Regions from separate parts of the Homo sapiens genome. Here region 2 is linked to region 1. A link means that fine-mapping ties the variant in region 1 to the expression of a gene that starts in the linked region. Tissue or cell type: whole blood. Region 1 holds a variant in brackets; the other region holds the start of a gene. All regions are shown on one strand. Distances are between the middles of the regions.

Region 1 (8,175 bases):
ATGTTGTTATTCTGAGGATAAATGGACTGATCCACAAACATTGCTGGCATCAGTTTCTCTTTTTCTGGATGTCTTCTCAACAATAGCACAAGAACTTGAAGGCCACAACACTACAGAGCTGGGGGATCTCAGCCATTGTTTTCCCAGTGGAGACCACTCTTGGCATTTTGGTTGGCACAGTTGGGCTGGACTTCCTGCTCATTTCAAGGTTTAGTATCCCTGGACAGAGCTGCACCCTCTAGCTCCTGGTTGTTATGGCCGGGGACAGAGTGCCTTCCTACGAGTGGCTGCCGGCTTCATTTCTTGCCCCCCAACACTGGTGCTGCTGTCGGGAATGGCATATCGGGCTGGATTCAGGGCAGGTTGTTCCCCCAGCCATGACCTGGACATGCTTGCTGTCTGGTTGGCCCGAGAGTGCACACCACCAACCTGGTCAGGGCAGGTGCCCAGGACTGGCGCCATGGACCCAGAGTGGCTGCTGGGAGGGGAGCATGCTGGGCTCAGCAGGCCTGAACTTAGGATCTGCTGCTTTTTGTCTGTTGGAATTAAATGTTAACTAGATACTAGGTAAATTTAAAGTTTACAGAATGCATGGAAGAGATACAGAACTATGGTATAAGAAACGGGGATGCACCTACCACCCGTTTTTAAAAAAGAATTTGATTCTCCTGCGTGTCCCTCCCCACGTTCTGACCTATTTCCTCATCTTACACTTCCAAATTGTGGATAGATTATTCCCTCGCTTCTCTTTCTGTTTCCATGCACGCCTGGTTCCCTAAACAACCTGTTGTTTAATTTTGAACAAGAGTCATCCTGTATGTGTCCGAGCATGGATCTTTTTGTCTCTGTGTCCAGCATTTGGGAGAATCGCCTCAGCTCTGTCTTCTGCTAGCTGACTCTTTACAGCTGTTTCTCATCTGTAAGGCCCATCTACTGAATTTCTAGTTTCCAATTATATTTTTCATTTATTGAAGTTCTGTTTATTTTGGTCACTTTATATCCTGTTTTCTTTTTCTTTCTTTTTTTTTTTTGAGACAGGGTCTCATGCGGTGTTGTCCAGATGGGGTGCAGTGGCAGGTTCACAGCTCACTGCAGCCTTGACCTCCTGGGCTCAAGCAATCCTCCCACCCCAGCCTCCCAAATAGTTGGGACCACACTTGGCTAATTTTTTTTTTTTAATTTTTTGTAGAAACAGGGTCTCACTTTGTTGCCCAAGATGGTCTTGAACTCCTGGACTCTGGGCTCAAGTGATCCTCCTGCCTTGGCCTCCCAAAGTGCTGGGATTACCAGCATGAGCCAGTCCGCCTGGCCTATATCCTATTTTCAAGTTAATTTTTATTTTATCAAAGTAATCATGTTGCTTTCTCACCACATTACGTCTTGGAGGTTTATCCGTGACAATGTGTGGATCTTCATTTTCTCTGCTGTCCACTGTCTGAACGTAGTGCTGTGTTAGGGGCTAGGGATGCAGCAGAGGGCAGATGCCACTCAGATGGAGCCTCCCTCGTAGTGGGGAAGAAAGAGAAACAGGCCTGAATTACAGTCAGCTGGGCTAGAAGAAGCCAGGGCCCCTCAGAAGGGGTAGGCCAAAGCTCCTAGAAGCTGAGCCCTTAAGGATGACTGGGAGTTTGCTGGGTGAACAAACAAATCCCAGGTTAGGGGTCCTACGTGCAGAAGCCTTTGAGAAATGATGGCTCCTCGTGTCTGAGGCCAGGCTCTCTCTGTAGGTGAGGGTGTGAGGAGACTTGGGCATTGGAACTCTCCTGCGAGGTGGTATGCGTTGGAACCCTGATCTCTGGGACTGTCCTGTATATTCGAGTCACCGATAATCAGTGCTCACCGGGGTTCAGCCTCAGAGGAGGGAGTGGAGCGGAGCTCGTGGTTAAGCAGTGTCTGCTTCTGCCCCCGCGCCTGGTCACCTGCCTCCTTCCTCACTCGCGGAGCAGGAGTGATCACGGTGCCTGCGTGCAGGGTCTTTGTGAGTATGGGGAGGAGCGGCGCGGGCCGGGGCTGCTGTCAGCGTTGGTGTTGTTATGCTGGTGTTGTTACGTTGCTATTGTTACACCGGTGTTGTTACGCCAGTGTTGTTATGTTGCTGTTGTTACGCTGGTGGTGTTATGTTGGTGTTGTTACATCAGTGTTGTTACGTTGCTGTTGTTACACCCGTGTTGTTACGTTGTTATACCGATATTGTTACGCCAGGGTTGTTACATTGTTGTTACACCAGTGTTATGTTGTTGTTACACTGGTGTTGTCATTCTTATCCCAGTGTTGTTATGTTGTTATGTCAGTGTTAATGTTGCTGTTGTTATGCTGTTGTTACACCAGTGTTATGTTGTTGTTACACCGGTGTTGTACACCATTGTTATGCCGGTGTTGTGTTGTTACACTGGTGTTATGTTGCTGTTACACCAGTGTTGTTACATTGCTGTTAAGCTGGTGTTATATTGTTATGCTGGTGTTGTAACATTGCTGTTAACACCGTTGTTATGTTGCTGTTATGCCGGTGTTGTGCCAGTGTTATGCCGGTGTTGTTTTGTTGTTGTTACGCTGGTGTTACATTGTTACACCAGTGTTATGTTGTTGTTACACCGGTGTTGTTATGTTGCTGCTGTTACATCGGTGTTGTTACATTGTTATGCTGGTGTTGTTATGTTGTTGTTACACCAGTGTTGTTACATTGCTGTTGTTACTCTGGTGTTGTTATGTTGTTGTTATGCTGGTGTTGTGTTACTGTTGTTATGTTGTTGTTACGCTGGTGTTGTTATGTTGCTGTTGTTACATCGGTGTTATGTTGTTATGCCAGTGTTACATTGCTGTTACGATGATGGTGTTATGTTGCTGTTGTTACACTGATGTTTTTTGTTTGTTTGTTTTTGTTTTTGAGGCAGAGTCTCGCTCTGTCGCCCAGGCTGGAGTGTAGTGGTGCGATCTCAGCTCACTGCAAGCTCTGCCTCCTGGGTTCACGCCATTCTCCTGCCTCAGCCTCCCAAGTAGCTGGGACTACAGGCGCCCGCCACCACGCCCAGCTAATTTTTTGTATTTTTTAGTAGAGACGGGGTTTCACCATGTTAGGATGGTCTCGATCTCCTGACCTCGTGATCCGCCTGCCTTGGCCTCCCAAAGTGCTGGGATTATGGGCGTGAGCCACCATGCCTGGCCACACCGGTGTTGTTATGTTGCTGTTGTTACACCAGTGTTGTTATGTTGTTGTTACACTGGTGTTGTATGGTTACACCATTGTTGCGCCAGTGTTGTGTTGTTGTTACACTGGTGGTGGTGTTACAACAACTTGTTGTTACACCAGTGTTATGTTGCTGTTAAGCCAGTGTTGTTATGTTGTTATGCTGGTGTTGTTATATTGTTGTTACGCCAGTGTTGTTACGTTGCTGTTATGCTGGTGTTATGTGGTTGTTACACTAGTATTATGTTGCTGTTATTCCAGTGTTGTTACATTGTCACACCAGTGTTGTTACGTTGCTGTTACAATGGTGTTATATTGCTGTTATTAAGCTGGTGTTACGTTGTTGTTATGCTGGTGTTGTTACATTGCTCTTAACACCGGTGTTATGTTGCTGTTGTTACGCCAGTGTTGTTATATTGTTGTTACACCGGTGTTATGTTGCTGTTGTTACACTGGTGTTACATTGTTGTTACACCAGTGTTGTTATGTTGCTGTTGTTACGGTGGTGTTATGTTGTTATGCTGGTGTTGTTTTGTTGTTGTTATGCTGGTGTTACGCCGGTGTTATGTTGTTGTTACACCAGTGTTATGTTGCTGTTGTTACGCCAGTGTTGTTACGTTGTTGTTATGCTGGTGGTGTTATGTTGCTGTTGTTACTCTGCTGTTATGTTGTTGTTACACTGGTATTATGTTACTGTTGTTATGTTGTTATGCTGGTGTTGTTGCACTGCTGTTATGCTGGTGTTATGTTGTTACTCCGGTGTTGTTACGTTGCTGTTGTTACGCCGGTGTCGTTATGTTGTTACGCCAGTGTTGTTACGTTGCTGTTAGCTGGTGTTATATTGCTGTTGTTAAGCTGGTGTTATGTTGTTGTTATGCTGGTGTTGTTACATTGCTGTTGACACTGGTGTTGCTGTTGTTACGCCAGTGTTATGTCGTTACACCAGTGCTGTTATGT[TGTC/T]GTTACGCCAGTGCTGTTATGTTGCTGTTGTTACGCCAGTGTTGTTATATTGTTGTTACACCAGTGTTATGTTGCTGTTGTTACACTGGTGTTGCATTGTTGTTACACCAGTGTTGTTATGTTGCTGTTGTTACGGTGGTGTTATGTTGTTATGCTGGTGTTGTTTTGTTGTTGTTATGCTGGTGTTATGTTGTTACACCAGTGTTATGTTGCTGTTACGCCAGTGTTGTTACGTTGCTGTTGTTACACCAGTGTTGTTACGTTGCTGCTGTTATGTTGCCGTTGTTACTCTGCTGTTGTTATGTTGTTGTTACACTGGTGTTGCACTGCTGTTATTCTGATGTTGTTATGTTACGCCAATGTTGTTATGTTGCTGTTGTTACATTGGTGTTGTTATGTTGTTGTTACGCTGGTGTTGCTGCACTGCTGTTATGCTGGTGTTGTGTTGTTAGGCTGGTGTTGTTATGTTGCTGTTGTTATGCTGGTCGTGCTGCTCCATGTTCTCCAGGTGTTCTTCCCTTTTATCGTCACAGTTACCCCGTACACCTGACAACTGGACATCTGCGCCTGGGGGTCTTCAGCCTAAACACACCTAAACCCTCCACCAAACCCCTCTGCTTCCGCCTCCCCGTGTCTGTGAGCGCCTCCACTGCCCATCCCTCTGCTCAGGCCCCACTTCCAGGGCTCATGTTGGGGGCCTCCATTTTGCTCACACCCACCCCATCTGTCAGCAGGTCCAGTCAATCCTGACTCTGGGGTGCCTCTCCCTCCCCTCCAGCTCCTGTACTGCCCATTAGTCCAGGCCCTGTCGTCTCTGCTGGGCAGCTGTGCAGCCTCTTCCTTGCCTTCCCTGCATCTGCACCCATTCTCCCCCCAAGACCAGGGGTCGATCCCCAATATAGGTCAGGTCTCGTCTTCTCCTGCCTCAGATCCTCCAGTGTCCCCCCTACAACTGATCTTAGAAAAAAGTCCAGCCTCTTCGCCTTATCCTGCAAGACCCCTGATCTCCTCTCCAGCCTCACCGCTGTCCCCACTCTTTGCTCACCTCCATCTGGCCCCCAGCACACCAAGTTCCTTCCTGCCTCGGGGCTTTGGCACCTGAGGGTCCCTGCAGCTGAGATGCTTTCTCCCTGGCTTTTTGCGAGGCTGGCTCTTCAGGTCTCGGAGGGGCCTTTTCATTACCCTCTGTCACAACTGCTCTGTAATTTTGTTTACTTCCTTTTCTCTTCTTCCCACTTTCCCTCCCTCCCACTCCCCTGCACATTGCCTGGCACAGGTGTGCGCCCGGTAGTGAGGTGGCACTTGTTAGTCTCATCCAAGGGCAGGATGCAGGAACAAAAGTCAAGTAACTTACCCAAGATCACATGCTAGTAAGTGGCAGTCATACTCTGGGGTGCTGCAGCCCCCGCCATGGTGCCATAGCCCCCACAGTGCCGAGCCTCCTACTGGCAGTGGCCAGGCAGGGCGGGGCGAGGGGCTGGCCAGTATCTACAGAGGCAATCTGGCCTTTGCTGGGAATAGAGCTTTCTTCATGTGGATTTCTGTAGAGGCTCACGGATTTGACGCCTTCTCTTACAGTAGTTCTCATTGACAGAGGTGGCTTCAAGACTTCCTCCCTCCCTTCTCGTGGTGAGGTTGGCTTTGGTGTGCACCATTTTTATAGGCCCTGTGGACTGGGGGAAGAGGATGCAGGATGAATGTGCGGGCTGGGGTTTTGGTGCACCTCGGGGAGATCTGATGTTCTGGCCTCTCTTTAGATCCTCCCCACTTCTCCACCTCCCTCCACCAGGCCGCACCAGCTTCTATGAGGAGTACGGTGTCATTCGCGACGTCCTCCAGAACCATCTGACGGAGGTCCTCACCCTCGTGGCCATGGAGCTGCCCCACAATGTCAGCAGTGCGGAGGCTGTGCTGCGGCACAAGCTTCAGGTCTTCCAGGCGCTGCGGGGCCTGCAGAGGGGCAGTGCCGTCGTGGGCCAGTACCAGTCTTACAGTGAGCAGGTGCGCAGAGAGCTGCAGAAGCCAGACAGCTTCCACAGCCTGACGCCGACCTTCGCAGGTGGGCCCTGGGGCTGGGCATGGGGCACTGGGCTGCCCACTTCGCCGGGAGCAGCTTTCCAAATGCAGACGCCCTTGGGTGGAGTGGAGGGGACTTGAGGTGGGATTTCCCCCAGGGTGCTCGGAGGCAAGGATGGCATTCCCCTGTCTCCCTGGCCTCCTACCAGCCTAAAGTGGCAGGCCAGCTGGTGGTGCCCTCAGGGCGAAGGACATCCCAATGGCCATGGCCTCGTGTCAGCCCCAGTTCAGTCCCAGATGCTTCCCAAGGGTTTGTCGTGCGAGGCTCAGACAGACCTGGTTCCTGCCTCATAGGGTCTCCCCAGTGAGGCCGCAAGCCTTTTGCCTGGCCACAGCTGGAGACACTTCCAGCGGCCAAGTGCCATGCCAGGGCTGTCCTCTGGGCAGTTCCAGAGACCCAGGGCTTTCTGGGAGAGGCTGGCTCCTCACCAGGTAGCAGCCAGGCAGTAAGAGCCACAGCTGCCTGTTGAGCACGCGCCGTATGCCAGGTGCTTTATAGATGCCTCTCATACAAGCCTCACGCACCAACCACGAGGCAGGGGCCATTAGCCCCGTTTTACAGGTGAGGAAACGTAAGGCTCGGTGAAGTCGTCAGAATGAACCAGGCTTGGAACTTGGGCATGGAATACTGTCAGCCCCTGGCTCTTGCCACCAGGCCTTGTCCCTCCTTGCCAACACCCCACCCACGGGCCTCTGCTTGGTGACTCTCTCCTCACCCCGCACCTCTGACCCTGCGTCGGGTGCATCCTGAATGCTTCACAAGCAGGAGGGAAGCACGTTTCTCTGTAGGACCCCCTGACCCCTCAAATACCTAAGAGTCAGGGTCCCCCACCCCACTTGCCCCCACTGTGGGGCGTCCTTTAGAGTCTCCAGGTTGGATGCTCTCAGCCCGGTTCTCCTTTCCTGGGGGACCATAACTCTAAGAGGGGCCTCAATGAAGGCAGGTGTCAAAGCCATAGAGATAGCCCCAGAGGCCGGTTTTCAAGCATGGACTGGGAAGAGAAGGTCATGGAAGAGATGCCAGGCGAGGGGTGAGCATGGCAAGGCGAGGGGCTTCCCTGAGGCAGGGGGACGCCCAGAGGAGCCGGCAAGGAGAGGAGAGGGCTGGCCGGAGAGTCCTGGTCTGTGCCAGAGAGTCACCCTCTGCTGTTCCCTCACCCCAGCCGTCCTAGTGCACATTGACAACCTTCGCTGGGAGGGCGTGCCTTTCATCCTGATGTCTGGCAAAGCCTTGGACGAGAGAGTGGGCTACGCTCGGATCTTGTTCAAGAACCAGGCCTGCTGTGTGCAGAGCGAAAAGCACTGGGCCGCGGCGCAGAGCCAGTGCCTGCCCCGGCAGCTCGTCTTCCACATCGGCCATGGCGACCTGGGCAGCCCTGCCGTGCTGGTCAGCAGGAACCTGTTCAGGCCCTCCCTGCCCTCCAGCTGGAAGGAAATGGAGGGACCACCTGGGCTCCGCCTTTTCGGCAGCCCTCTGTCCGATTACTACGCCTACAGCCCTGTGCGGGAGCGGGACGCCCACTCCGTCCTCTTATCCCATATCTTCCATGGCCGGAAGAATTTCTTCATCACCACAGAGAACTTGCTGGCCTCCTGGAACTTCTGGACCCCTCTGCTGGAGAGCCTGGCCCATAAGGCCCCACGCCTCTACCCTGGAGGAGCTGAGAATGGCCGTCTGTTGGACTTTGAGTTCAGTAGCGGCCGGTTGTTCTTTTCCCAGCAGCAGCCGGAGCAGCTGGTGCCAGGGCCAGGGCCGGCCCCAATGCCCAGTGACTTCCAGGTCCTCAGGGCCAAGTACCGAGAGAGCCCGCTGGTCTCCGCCTGGTCCGAGGAGCTGATCTCTAAGCTGGCTAATGACATCGAGGCCACCGCTGTGCGAGCCGTGCGGCGCTTTGGCCAGTTCCACCTGGCACTGTCGGGGGGCTCGAGCCCCGTGGCCCTGTTCCAGCAGCTGG
Region 2 (8,175 bases), 25 kb before region 1:
AGAGTGAGATTCCGTCTCAAAAAATAAAATAAAAATTTTTAAAAAGAGGCTCCTTATGTCTGAGGATGAAAAGATCTACTCGTGGCTGAAAAATCTCTACCTGTTTCCCTCCCTCCCCACCTCCTGCGAGAAGCAAGACGAAGCCAGCAGAGCTGCCTTAGGGAGTGACACCTGAAAATAGAAACTGCAATGGGATTTTATTTCTAACTCCACAGGCATCTCTGTGAGTCATTCATCTCTCTGGGTCTCACTTTCCTTGTCTGTAAAGCAGGCTGAATTCACCCTGACTTCTGCCTACACCACAGTTAAAGGGCTAGGAAGAAAAATCCCCAAAAATCCACTTCATAAATAGAGCCCCAGGGCGCTCCTTATAAAGCACGAGATAAACCACAGACAGAATTCTGGTCACAGGACACCCCCTGGACCACCCATGGGGCATCATTCCTTTCTCCCGGCTTCCTTCATTCTCCCGGCTTCCTTCACGGGGTTCTGGGCACACCTGGTCCCTTGTAGCTGCGGTCAGCACGGAAACAAGAAAAGCTTCAGACAGGCAAAGGTGCAGAAACCAATGCCAGGGCCCACAGGGACAAAGTTTTCGATTTTTGTGTTTTGGGTGGCAGTACTCTCACACCAGGATGACTGGGTCTTAGCACGACCTAATCGTCTTCATGATGGAAAGAAAGCAAAGCAACTGATTGCCCAGAGAAAACTGGAAGGTACAGAGGCAGGATGAGACTGAGGTGAAGGTAAGGTGAGGAAAGACAGGCGGAGAAATGAAACATCTCAGGGTGGTGTGGGAGTGGACATAGGGTTGGGAGGGCATTGTGACCCCCTAGGCTAATTCCCCCCTCAGACCCCACCCCAACGTTACCTAATCAGGTGGACGTTTTCTTAGTAAGCAGGTTACAACTGACTTGGTTTGGGGCTTTGTTTTTTTTTCTTTTTTTTTTTTTTTGAGACCGAGTTTCACTCTTGTTGCCCAGGCTGGAATGCAGTGGCGCGATCTCAGCTCCCCGCAACCTCCACCTCCCAGGTTCAAGCTATTCTCCTGCCTCAGCCTCCCGAGTAGCTGGGATTACAGGCATGCGCCACCACACCCAGCTAATTTTGTAGTTTTAGTAGAGACATGGTTTCACCATATTGGTCAGGCTGGTCTCGAACTCCCGACCTCAGGTGATCCACCCGCCTCGGCCTCTCAAAGTGCTGGGATTACAGGCGTGAGCCACCGTGCCTGGCTTTTTTTTTTTTTTTTTTTGACACAGTTTCACCCTGTTGCCCTGGCTGGAGTGCAATGGCGCGATCTTGGCTCACTGCAACCTCTGCATCCTGGATTCAAGCGATTCTCGTGCCTCAGCCATCTGAGTAGCTAGGACTACAGGCACGCCACCACGCTTGGCTTTTTTTTTTTTTTTTGTATTATTAGTAGAGATGGGATTTCATCATGTTGGCCAGGCTGGTCTCGAACTACTGACCTCAGGGGATCCACCTGCCTCGGCCTCCCAAAGTGCTGTGATTACAGGCATGAGCCACTACGCCTGACCTGGGGCTATTTATAAGAAGCCCTCAAGGTAGCAGATCACCCTCTGATGGCCACATGGAGATCTGGGAAACGAACCCCCGGTCATGCCTCTGGACACCTGCCCACTTCTATCTGTGCCTTCCTGGGCCCTGGTTTTCAGAGCTATGTGGGTGCCTGACACACTCAGGGCCACAGAACATGGGAAGGGCTCTAGGCCAAGAGTCCCGGCATCATTCGAGTCTGCTCTGGCCCGCTCCTGCCCTAAGCCCTCCTGCTCACTTCCAGCTGTGGAGGTAGCCCAGAGAGTGCCTGGCTCCCTGGCTCCCCCCTCTGCCAGGCCCACTCAGTGTGACCTAAATCCTTGCCGAGGCTTGGCAGCCCTCTGCGGGCGCCCGGATGGCCTCTGGCCTTGGTGACGGTGAGGCCCAGCTCCCCTCAGTTCCCAGCCTTCCCGGAACCCCTTGCCTAACATCCTGTGTGGTAATCATGCCTGTTGGCCCCATTCAGTCCTGCCGGCCACTGCCAAGTTGCCACTGCTAGTTCCAGACGCTCCCACCTCTAATGGAACCATCGGGAAATAAAAAGCTGCAGCACAGTTTCTCTCTCAGGTCAGAATCTCCTCCCAGCACTTTGGGAGGCCAACGTGGGAGAATCACTTGGGCCCAGGAGTTCGAGACCAGCCTGGGCAACAAAGTGAGACCCCGTCTCTACAAAAAGTTGAAAAATTAGTCAGGAGTGGTGGCGAACATCTGTGATCCCAGTTACTTGGGAGGCTGAGGCGGGAGGATCACTTGAGCCTGGGAGGCGGAGGCTGCAGTGAGCTGTGATAGCGCCACTGCACTCCAGCATGGGTGACAGAGCGAGACCCTGTCTCAAAAAAAAAAAAAAAAAAAAAAAAGAAAAAAAGAAAAGAAAAGAAAGAAAAAAGAAAAAGTGGGGAGCAGGTTGGGGAGCATGGTGAGGGCCACCTACTGCCTGATAATGGTGGGGGACAGGAAGGGGACTGAGTGCTCTGAGAGGCAGCTGATCCCGTTTTCTCACTTAAATACCTCTCACCCTACAGAGAAGCCCTGATTCCATTTGCTGTCTTTCTTAGCAATGTCTTAGCAAAAGTCTTCTATTTGCCACACGGGTCCAAGCTTCCGCTTACTAAGCACCCAAGTGCCAGACAACCCCGGAGGCAGGTACTCCCATTGTCCCCACTGTACAGATGAAGAAACTGAACTCAGGGTCACACAAGTGATAAGGGGTGGCAGAGATCTGAAGCTGTGCGCGGAGGCGTGGCCAGCGTGTGCGCTCCGACTTCTAAATCCCTACTCTGGATATTGAAGACGGGAAAGACCGAGCCGCTCATTCTACAGATGGGGAAAAGCGAGGCCTGAGGAGTCCCAGAGCGGGTGCCAGATCGTAGGGAGCAGCCAGCACCCCGGGTCCCCTCCACGACACAACCACGTCCCTCGGCCACTTCTGGGTCCCGCGCGCGTCTCGGACGCGGCAGGACAGCTCTAGGACGCACGGCCACCAGGGGGCCGAAGGGAAGGGCGGGGGCGGAGGCTCGGAGCTGACCCACCGCCTCGCCCCGGAAGCTCCGAGGCCCCGCCCCGGCGGCCGCCAGCGGAGGGCGTGGCCTCGCCGGCGCCCCCGCCCCGCCCCCGCCCCCGCCGCGCGCGCCCCCGCCGCGCGCGCCCCCGGCCCGGGCCCCAGTCTTGCTGAGCGCAAGGCGGTGGAGGCCTGAGGCCTGAGGCCTGGGGCGGGGTGGCGGCCGGGCTGGCCTTGGCCTCGCGCCTTCCCCTGCGGCCGCCGCGGGCTCCGCGGGCGGTATCGGAGTGTCGTGCGGCGCGTGGCCGCGTGACACGCGCACTTGTCGGAGTGACGGGCCCTGCGGAAGAGGAGGTGCGGCCCAGGGCGCAGGGGAGCCCTCGGGAGCGGGCCCGGCCCTCAGCGCCGCCCCGGCCGTGTCCCGGAGGAGCGGCCTGCGCCGCCGCGCGAGAGGAAGTAAGCGCCCCCCGCCGGCCCCGCCGCCGCCCCGGCCCCGGCGCCTCCAACCCGCGCTGCCGCCGGGCCCGAGGCCGCGCCGAGCCCCGGAGCCTGCGCTGCCAGCCCCACGGAGCCTGGGGCTGGCGGCTTTGGAACTGCTCAGGAGGCGGCCAGGCTCCCTCCAGGGTCGCCCCGAGCGGCCGAGCTGTCCTTTCCCTGGGCTTCCCGGAACTGAGTTCCAGGAGAGGGGGAACTCCGAGATTTCCCCCGGGACCTGCTTAATCTTTGGCATTGATTGGCCCTCGGGTTTCACATAGCGTTTCCCGTACCCGGATCTAGTGAACGGTTTTCCAGGGGCAAACCTCTCTGGATCTCTGAAAATCAGCTCACCCAACCTTGAATGCTTAGCCAGAAGTGAGAACTTCTGGAAAGAAGTGTCCTTGCCCACTCCCCCTGCACCCACAACAGGCCCATGGCTCATGAAAGGCAGCAGATGAGGGAAAACTGGTGTCAAATGGGCATATTTTTTATTTTATCTTTTTACTTTTTTATATAAAAGTAAAAAATCTTTTACTTATAAAAGATGGGGTCTTGCTTGGTTGCCCAGGCTGGAGTACAGTGGCACAAACACGGTTCCCTGCAGCCTCCACCTCTTGGGCTCAGGCCATCGTCCTGCCTCAGCCTCCGGGGTAGCTGGGACCACAGGCGCACACCACCACGCCTGGCTAATTTTTAAACCTTTTGTAGAGACAGTGGTCTCACTATGTTGCCCTGGCTGGTCTCGAACTCCTGGGCTCAAGCGATCCTCCTGCTTAAGCCTTACGAAGTGTTGGGATTACAGGTGTGAAGCACCACGCCCAGACAGCGTATTTTAAATTATGCATCATATCCCTTTAATTTTTCATCATTATGATTGGAAGATCATGAAAAGCTGTCTGAGTTTTTCCTTGGCATTTTTCTGTGGTTGATGGTTAGTTGTTGCCCAAGCTGGAGTGCAATGGCGCGATCTCGGCCCACTGCAACCTTCTCCTCCTGGTTCAAGCGATTCTTCCACCTCAGCCTCCTGAGTGGCTGGGATTACAGGCGCGTGCCACCACACCCGGCTAATTTTATGTATTTTTTAGTAGAAACAGGGTTTCACTATGTTATCCAGGCTTGTCTTGAACTGCTGACCTCAGGTGATCCACCACCTCGGCCTCCCAAAGTGCTGGGATTACAGGCATGAACCACCGCGCCCAGCTGGTTAGTTGGTTTTAACAGCAGTTCAAGAAGCTAGCAAGAAGGACTTCATTCGTGAAGCTAATGGTTTAATGATAGAAACTAACATTTCTGGCCGGGCCCAGTGGCTCACGCCTGTAATCCCAACACTTTCGGAGGCCAGGGCGGGCAGGTCACTTGAAGAGTTCAAGACCAGCCTTGCCAACATGGTGAAACCCCGTCTCTACTAAAAATACAAAAATTTGCTGGGCATGGGGGCAGCGGATGCCTGTAATCCCAGCTGCTGGGGAGGCTAAGGCAGGAAAATCGCTTGAACCGCCCTGCCTCCGGTGACGGAGGTTGCAGTGAACCAAGATCGTGCCACTGCACTCCAGCCTGGGTGACAAAGCTAGACTTCTCCTTAAAAAAAAAAAAAAAAAAAAGCAGCTAGGATTTCTTGGGTGCTTACTGTATGCCAGGCATTGTGCTAAGTACCTTACATGCTTCCCATCGATTTGTTTTCCCATTCTGTGGTTGAGGTACAGAGAGGTTAAATAACTTGTCTGAGGGTACATAGTTACTGAGTGGCAGGGATTTGAATCCAGAATATTCTTATGTAACCAGTTCTCCAAAAACTAGCCCTTGAAGGTCTTCCACGTTTCAACAAAGCAACTGAGGCTTATACATGATGTCTTCATGATGTCAGAAGGAAGAACTGTGAAAGGCAAAGCGGACCCGGGAGGCAGAGGCTGGTTACCGCAGTTAGTGTTCGGAACAGCTTGACTTCATGGAGCAGAGAAACAGCCTGTCTGGTTTAAACCACTGTTCAGTATCTACACTGATACAGTGTAAATGTAATACAGTGTTTTACATTTTGCCATTCAGGGATGTAGTCACATTTTACGGGAAGGTTAGCTCTGGGACCAGACTGCCTGTATTCAAATCCTATCACCTCTAGCTGCTTGACCTTTGGTAAGTTATTTGACTTCTCTTTTTTTTTTTTTTTTTTTTTTTTTTGAGATGGAGTCTTGCTCTGTTGCCCAGGGGCGCAATCTCAGCTCACTGCAACGTTCGCCTCCTAGGTTCAAGTGATTCTGCTCCCTCAGCCTCCCAAGTAGCTGGGATTACAGGCACCTGCCACCACGCCTGGCTAATTTTTGTATTGTTAGTAGAGACGGGGTTTCACCGTGTTGGCCAGGCTGGTTTTAAACTCCCGACCTCCAATGATCCTCCTGCCTCAGCCTCCCAAAGTGCTGGGATTATAGGCGTAAGCCACTGCGCCTGGCCATGTTATTTGACTTCTCTTTGCCTTAGTTTCCTCTCTACTCCCTGCTAAGATGGGGATAATCATGTTACCTACCTCATATGGTTGTGGCAAGATTTAAATGGTGTGATGCATGTCACACCGATAGCCTAGCATTTGGCATATAGTTAAATACTCCATAAATAGCTCTTTTATTATTAAAAGTGTTGTTCCAAGTAGTAAGCTGCTGCTGTGTGCTGTGTCACAGTGCTTGAAGTCACCATTAGAGGTATATTCCTTTGTGCCGTATTTCAAATGCAGAAATGACAGTGGTCCTGTGCAAATGGGATTTATTTGTTCATTTAGCAGATATTTATAGAGCGCCTTCTGTATGCCAGGCCTTGTTTTGGATACTGGAGGTACTGCGGAGAACAAAACAAACAAAAGTCCCTGTCCTCATTGGCACGCACACTCTTGGGAAAAGGAATGGCAGACAATAGGCAAAATGAATGTAATTATCATACAGTATATTAGAAAGCGATGTACTGTGGGGAGAAATAAAGCAGGAGAGGAGGATGGGGGTGGGCGGTTTACAATTTTAGAGTGGTCTGAGTAAGCCTCACTGAGAAGATGACATTTTAGCAAAGAAAAATTAGTGAGGGAGTAAACCACGTGGACCTGGTGGGGGACATGGGGGAGTTGGCCAGGCGGAGAGAACAAGTGCAAAGGCCCTGAGGCAGGAGGCTGGGCGGCCAGAGCCTAGACAGGCAGGATGGTAAGAGAAGAGATCAAAGAGGTAATGGGTGGGAGGCCAGAATGTGTAGACTCTGCAGACATCTGCACAGAGGAATGGCATGATCCAGCTGGAGCTATAAAAAGGTCACTCTGACTGCCGTGTTGAGGCTCAGCCATAGAGGGTCCAGGTAGACAGAGGAGGCCAATTAGGAAGTTCCTGTAGTAATCCAGACGGAGATGACGGTGGCTGGCACTGGAGTGGAGTGGTGGAAGGTGGTGAGAAGCAGTTGTATTCTAGATAAATTTTGAAGATAGAAACTACAGGATTTGCTGACAGATACGATGACCTCAAGGTTTCTGGGTCTGAACACCTGGAAAGATAGAGTTGTCATTTACTGATAATGGGGAAAGCTACATTGGAAGCAGATTGGGAGAGAAATCAGTTCAGTTTTGTACATATTAAGTCTGGCAAACATCCCACTCATGCTCTCAGAATAGCAATTGACTGCATGAGTCTGGAGTTTAGGGGAAGTTCGGGCTGTAAATAAAGACTTGGACGGATAGGCAGTTGTGTGCTGGTAATGTTTACCAACTGACTCTGTGAGGGGTGGGGTTGGTAGTGGGGAACCTGATTTATAGCCTTTGCCTATATCTGTGGTGTAAATATTCTGACGTTGGCCAACTTCAAATACACTATAATAGAATATCTTCACCTCATAGATGCAGTGGATATAAATAATATCAAGAGCATAGATATTAGTGAAATGTAGTCAGATGATTAGGAAGTAATGAGTTTTGAGTATTTATTACCTTTCTTTTTAATTTAATGGTTTTTTTTTTTGAGACAGAGTCTCACTCTGTCACCCAGGCTGGAGTGCAGTGGTGCAATCTCTGCTCACTGCAGCCTCCGCCTCCTGGGTTCAAGCAATTATTCTGCCTCAGCCTCCCAAGTAGCTGGGATTACAGGCACCCGCCACCACACCCAGCTAACTTTTGTATTTTTAGTAGAAACGGGTTTTTGCCATGTTGCCCAGGCTGGTCTCAATCTCCTGGGCTCAAGTAGTCCTCCCGTCTCAGTCTCCCAAAGTGCTGGGATTACAGGACAGGTGCCTAAAGATGGGATGAGGATTCTCTGAGATGAGAGAGGAACAAGGACCCCAGAGCCCGATCTGGAAGCTTTTGTCCCCATTCTGGCCCTTAGGGCAGTGAATGCAGATCAGAGGTCATTGATAGCAGGCTTGATTTTTATCTGCATTGATGGGTTCAGCATAAATGGACCAGAACAGGAAGATTGCAAAAAACAGACAAAAAACAACAAAAACAAAAACCTTGGGTTGGCTATTGTAAAAAGACTAGGCACATCACCTTGTGCTTTAGTTTCAAATGATCTTTAGTTTGAACTTTTGTTTTACTCCCACATGTTCTTTTTAAAAAATTCCAAACTCATGGGTCATGATTTGAAGAAAATTTCCCTTCCTCCTGCCTGGCGCACAGAAGGTAACGT

Evidence for each region. PIP is the estimated chance that this variant, and not a neighbour inherited with it, causes the effect.
Region 2: it holds the start of H6PD, and the variant in region 1 is fine-mapped to the expression of H6PD in whole blood (TOPMed, PIP above 0.99).

The regions. Positions count from the first base shown.
Region 1 is chr1:9,256,126-9,264,300 of GRCh38, forward strand. H6PD (hexose-6-phosphate dehydrogenase/glucose 1-dehydrogenase) reads left to right here. Exons shown (of 5, transcript NM_004285.4): 4 at 5,934-6,203; 5 at 7,384-8,175. Among named protein-coding and RNA genes, the nearest start is that of H6PD, 25 kb to the left of the region's middle. The variant TGTC/T (reference allele first, on the strand shown) is at 4,142.
Region 2 is chr1:9,231,553-9,239,727 of GRCh38, forward strand. It overlaps H6PD (hexose-6-phosphate dehydrogenase/glucose 1-dehydrogenase), which reads left to right and starts at 3,222. Exons shown (of 5, transcript NM_004285.4): 1 at 3,222-3,514. RefSeq lists a silencer at 3,075-3,634.